Regions from separate parts of the Homo sapiens genome. Here region 2 is linked to region 1. A link means that fine-mapping ties the variant in region 1 to the plasma level of a protein whose gene starts in the linked region. Region 1 holds a variant in brackets. A gene starts in the other region. All regions are shown on one strand. Distances are from middle to middle.

The links. PIP is the chance, under the fine-mapping model, that this variant and not a neighbour inherited with it causes the effect. The UK Biobank Pharma Proteomics Project read protein levels with antibody pairs (Olink). The fine-mapping took linkage between variants from a reference panel, not from the people measured, so its PIPs are less certain.
Region 2: CD5L starts here. The variant in region 1 is fine-mapped to the plasma level of the CD5L protein (UK Biobank, PIP 0.93).

The regions. Positions count from the first base shown.
Region 1 is chr1:23,613,969-23,616,884 of GRCh38, forward strand. No RefSeq gene overlaps it. Among named protein-coding and RNA genes, the nearest start is that of MDS2, 12 kb to the right of the region's middle. The variant T/C (reference allele first, on the strand shown) is at 1,277.
Region 2 is chr1:157,840,432-157,843,347 of GRCh38, forward strand. It overlaps CD5L (CD5 molecule like), which reads right to left and starts at 1,377. Exons shown (of 6, transcript NM_005894.3): 1 at 1,243-1,377. The coding sequence starts at 1,270.

The sequences.
Region 1 (2,916 bases):
GCAGATCCAGGCTTGGCAGGATGTCAGTAAAGGTTATACAATACTGAGGGCGGGGGGGTCTCTTTAAATAATGAAGTACAAGGCCATGCCAATGAGGGACCCAGGACTTAAACCTCACCATCCTCACCTTAAATCTCCCTCTAAGCTCTGCCGCCCTGCTAGGAAGTGGTAGCAGAGGCCAGGTGGCTAGCTCCAGAACCCGTAAGAGTTATAAGCACTATTGAGAGTACACGAGACAGTCACTGCAGAATGCCACACAAATAAGAGGCAGCACTTCCATTGCATGTACCATGGGCTACACACTCATTTAACCCTTCCAGGAACCTAATGAGGGTGGCATATTATTACCACGCCCATTTTACAGATAAGGAAGTCAAGGCTCAGAGCGGACCAATGGTTTGCCTGAACGCACAGTGCTAAGGAGTGGTAGACCAGGATTCCAGCCCAGGCAGCCTGATCTCAGGGGCCACCTGTTTAGCCACTACAATAACTGTCACCTCGCTCATGACTGGGGCTCAGCACCTTCCTCTCACCTCCCCTTGCAGGCTCTCCCATCTGTTCCCTGACAGCAGCTTGGGGTGTGGACAAGACACCCCTGCTTTGGAGTCAGAGATGCCTGGATACTAATCCTCACCCTGTTGCTTGCTCGCTGTGTGTCCCTGAGACAGTCTTTTCCCATCTCTGAGCCTTAATTTTCTCATCTGTAAAATAGGAATTGTGCAATTTATAGGGTGGTCATGAAATGCAGATACATCAATTATTATTTTATGTGTTTTGTAACATACTATCAATAAGCCATGTATTTAAGTAAGTAAGTTGCCTTTGGATACCACTTCATAGGGTGGCTTGGAGAGTCAGAGTAAGGCGAAGAGTCTGGCCCATATTAAATGCTCAGGACCGGTAGAGATCACCATGCTGGGGACAAGGGGACAAGTCATTTGTGAGGAGTCAGGGGAATGGAGAAATGGACAAAACCAGATGTTGGGATGCCTGCATTCTGGAGGGATTTCTACCACCAGCTTGTGGTGTGACCTTGGACAAGTCACTCCCTCCTTTCTGAACTCAGTTTCTCCATTTGCAAGTTGTAGGCATCGCTCCTCACTAATGCATGAATGAAACTGTCTCTAAGGTCCTTAAGAGACTGAATTTCTGGGTAGGAGCACAGGAGCATCTTCTGGGTCTCTCTGAGGGCTGCTCCCATGAAGTCTCCCCCCTACTCTTGGGGTGCTTTTCATGGCTCCCACTCTTGAGACAAACAGGAGGGTTTGCAGGGAAC[T/C]CATACATCTCATCTGCTCCAGCAGAACCACAGTGCATGGCTCAGCTCGTGGGCTCTGCAACTGGATAGCCTTGATCTAATCTGTTTCTCACCTGTAAAATGGAGATGAAGATAATATAATAGATGTCCTTATCCTGAGTTCATAGAGGAGGAGACGGAGGTTCCAGGAGGCACAGGACTTGCTGGAGGTCATGGCTCTCACCTTGCCCTTGTCCTACTGCCTCTGGCCCACCCTTCTACAGATATGGGCTTTCCCTATGGGAATCCCAGCTTCCTCTCCCCATCCTAGAGGATTGGGTCACATTGTCTTTTGCCCTCTGCCTGACATCCTGTCTCTCCTCTCTCCCCATCTGGCAAACTCATCCAGTGGAGGTGGGCCAGCCCTGGTGTCCCCACTTACGAGCACGGTGACCCTGAGTAAGCCTCCCACCCTCTCTGGGCCCCATCCCCTCCCCGACGTCACAGGAACAACGTGGAAACGCTTGGCACACCCAGTGCCTGACCCATGGTGAGTGCTCATGAAATGTCATCTCAAATGTTGTCTCCTCAGGGGGCTGCCCTGGGGCCTCCATGTGGACCAAATTTCTCTGGGCTTGCAAAACCCAGTCCCTTCAGCACTTATCACCCTGTATCATAACCATCCACCATCAGGTCTGTATCCCACGCATCCTCAGATCCCTGTGTCTTCTTTACATCCACTGTGTTTGGCATAGGGACTGATACAAAGGAGGCACTCAGTTAAAGATTGTTCAATGAGTGAGTGAATGAATGAATGAATAAATGAATAAATGAATGAATGGTGCCTGAGTGGTGCTACATTGCACCGGGGTAAGCATTTCTCAGTGTCTCTCACTCAGCCTTCTCTGTCACCCTATGGGGTGGGTGTTCTGTCATTGCCCCCATTTCACAGATAAGCAAACAGACTCTGCTGGGGGAGGTGGCATAATCAGTGTTGGTGAAACCGGGTCCCAGAGCCTTTCCATGTCAGGTGAGGGTGGGTGGTTGGAGCCCAGAACAGTGAGTGTGAGTGACCCCTTCCAGAATTTGCCTTTGACCATTACCTCCTTGTAGAACTTCTCTCCTCCCTCGAAGACGCTGCTTCTCCCAGAACCTCTCTCATACCCCTCAGTCTCCTTCCCAAGTTCCAGCCAACCCTTGAATATTAGTGTTCCCCAGGGTTCTGCCCTCAAGCCTCATTGTAAACTGAGGCAGGGCTGGAACCTCTTTTGTCTGCCCGGCATATTTTTCCAATCTTCTCATTTCCTGTCCATGTGCTCTGGTCAGGTATCCCTCACAGGGCCCCACCCACTGGGAAGGCAAGTAGGCCAATTACAGTGTCCCATTTTCCTTGATATACAGTGATTGGTTTGGGCCTGGGCATGTGATACAAGCTGAGCCAATCAGAGCCCTCCCTGGAACTTTCGATGGAGCCAGTGGCGAAGCTTGGCTCTCTCCTGAAATGAGAGCTGGTAGGATGTAAACATTTGAGCATCTTTCCTGGGACTGGAGAATGCCTATCTGCCATGGGAGAGAAGGCCCATTCTTTTTTTTTTTTTTTTTTTGTTTGAGACAGAGTCTCACTCTGTCACCCATGCTGGAGTGTGGTGGTGCGATCTTGGCTCACTACAGCCTCCGCCTCC
Region 2 (2,916 bases), 130 Mb after region 1:
AGCCTACAGTTTTTCAGGCAGATTCAAGTAGTTCAGTGGTTTATCCTGGAATATTTTCTTTTCTTGGTTTCCAAATAACCTCTCATTACCCTCATTCCCTTAATCTTCAGAATGTGGCCACTCTCAGGCTCAATGAGGCCTTTTCTGCAACTATCCAAAACTCAAGGTTATATTATACATATGGGAATCATTGCATAACCCCAACCCAACATGTGTACATGTGAAGGAAAGTGAGCATGGCAAGCCTGATATGCAGGTGCAAACGTGATATAGCCAGTAAGTGACTTGGAAGCTCTGCAGTAGGGTGGGTAACTGCAGAAGGCACAGGCCAGAAAGGCTTCATGAAGCAGGTGGAAGTGCACATGAGCCTGGAAGACCCAGTAGTATATCCATGAGGGGCAGGACTAGCCGTTGAGTGATGTGGGGGATGCATGGATGTTTAAGATGTGGTCAGTACCTTACATTGAACACAAAAGTGTCCAGTTGAGAGGATTGTGTGGGCTTTGGTGATGTACTAGATCATCAAGACATAAAAGTGGATGTGATTGATTAGCATAGGGATTTACCAGGCATTGTTAGATGCTTTATATTAGTTATCTTATAAAAAAAAATACTCCTAAAAACCTCTGAGGAACATAATATTATCCTCACTTCATAGATGAGAGAGCAAAATTTCAGAGAGGTATGGTAACCTACGAATTCACACCGCTAAGAAATCAAAACGGCAGGATTGAAATCCAGGTCTCCTTGGCTCCACAATCACCAGATTAACTAGGTTAATCTCTAGATTACTCTAAGCAATGAGAAACTGAAGAAAACTAGAAAAACATTATATGAAACACTTTTCAGAGGAAACCAGACAATATGATCAATGAAAGGTGATTGTCTTGCAGTTCTACTTCCTTTCCTGGCTCTACTTGCTGCTGCCCGGTGCCCATTCATTTGTCTTCTTACTAATAGTACATTTAGGAACACTTATGTAAAAAGAGAAATGGGATAAACTATCATGACTCTGTCATTACAAATATAAGAAAATAGAAAAAAATCTGTTAAAGTGAATTACAAATGTGTATGGATTAAGCGGCTTTTTAAGGATTAGAATAGTTACCAAATGTAAAAAGGAGGAAGAAGCTCATCCTTGAAAAACATCTAAATCTGTTCCAGGTTGGCGGGGAGAAAGTTCTCCTAATCAAAGTGCCAGAAAACTCTGAAGCCTAAACCAACAGGTGCAGAGATACTCACCAAGGATCAAGGAGAATAGCAGAGCCATGACCAAGGCAGGTGAAGGTGATGAGCTGAAATTTAAGGCTAGAAGGAGGTCCCCAAGCAGCAATATTTAGTTTTAGCTGCAAGTATGTTAAGAGGAGGGACAAAGACAGGTCCTGAGTGCAGGCAAAGCATTATCAGATGATCAGAAACCAATAGACTCGGGGGGCAGAGCTGACAGAGCTGGACTTGCTGAAATCAGCATGTTCCAGAGGAAAGGAGGTGGCCAGAACTGGCGGAAAAATGCTGAAAACAAAATAGAAACAGGCTATCATGACTTGGTTCTGCTGTAAGTCCAGCTCCGTCTGTCTCTCCTACAGCCCCTTTGCTATGTAAACAGAGGAAACACCTCCCACAAGGAAAGGCAGGTGCCAAAAATATGGCCATCTCTCAGTAGAAGACAAGGCAGTACTTAGTCGCCAAGGATGGTTTGCAAGGGAAATAAGCCAATTTTGATTCCTTTACCCCAGAGGGAAGTGCCTAGAAAATTTGGAAGCCAGAGGCCATGGGATAAATGCAGAGTTGCCCTTGGAGGCATATCCCATAAAACATAATCCAGGGTCATGGTGCCAATCTCCACATACAGGCCTGGCTTTATTGTCTTCAAACCTGCTTTCTCACTGCTAAGCAGAGGGTCCAATATACAGATTTGTTATTTTTCTATGCTTGTGCTGGTGTATGCCCATCTTTGGAAGCTGGATGGAAACAGATCCCTGAGGTGAGGGGCATCATAATCATTGAACTCAAGTTGTCTGTAGGTCTAAGACATGATGGACAGAGATTAAGCAGTAAGACCCTCTCAGGCCCCTCTGCTTTGCTATATTATTAAGTATAGCTATGCTTCATGAGCTATTCTACTCCAGATTGATCAAGCAATCAATTTTGTATGCTGACATAATCTCTGCATTCCAAGCAGGGTAATTGTTCCTCTACAGTAATAATTTTTGCTTCTTTGTAATATTCAGGTAACTCAGCAGAAAGCTTGGTTCATTGTAGGCATTCATTTTTAATCCCACATTTCTTCATTTACTTAGTATTGTATTCAATGAAAAGTTTTTAGCACTCATGAATGCCAGGCAATGTGATGGGTGGAGGCAGTACATGAAGGAACAAGGGATAGTTTTGCACTGTAAAAATATATGGTCTAGTAATTGCAATAACATGTGGAAACCACTGTTAAGAGAGAAAAGTATAACAAACTTTGGAGGCCAGGCGAGGTGGCTCATATCTGTAATCCCAGCACTTTGGGAGGCCGAACTGGGAGGATAGCTTGAGCCCAGGAGTTTGAGGCTGCAGTGAACTATGATCAGGCCACTGAACCTCAGCCTGAGTGACAGAGTGAGATCACATCTCTAAAATAAGAAAAAGAAATGAAACCTTGGAGGAAATGGTTACTATGTTTGGAGCTAATCAGAGAAGACTTCACAGCAATGATGATACTTGAGCAGGGGTTTAGGATGAGTTAAGTGGAGAATCAGAATAGGAAAAGATTTTGCTATGCATATGCAGACAAGTGAAACAGCATTACTTATTCAAGGAACCACAGGTAGTTTGGAATGACTGGATTACAGCCTGCTTAGTGATCAGGGGCCAGGGCTTCTTGATGTTGAAAGGTAAAGACACTAGATGATATGCAAGTAGCAACAAGAG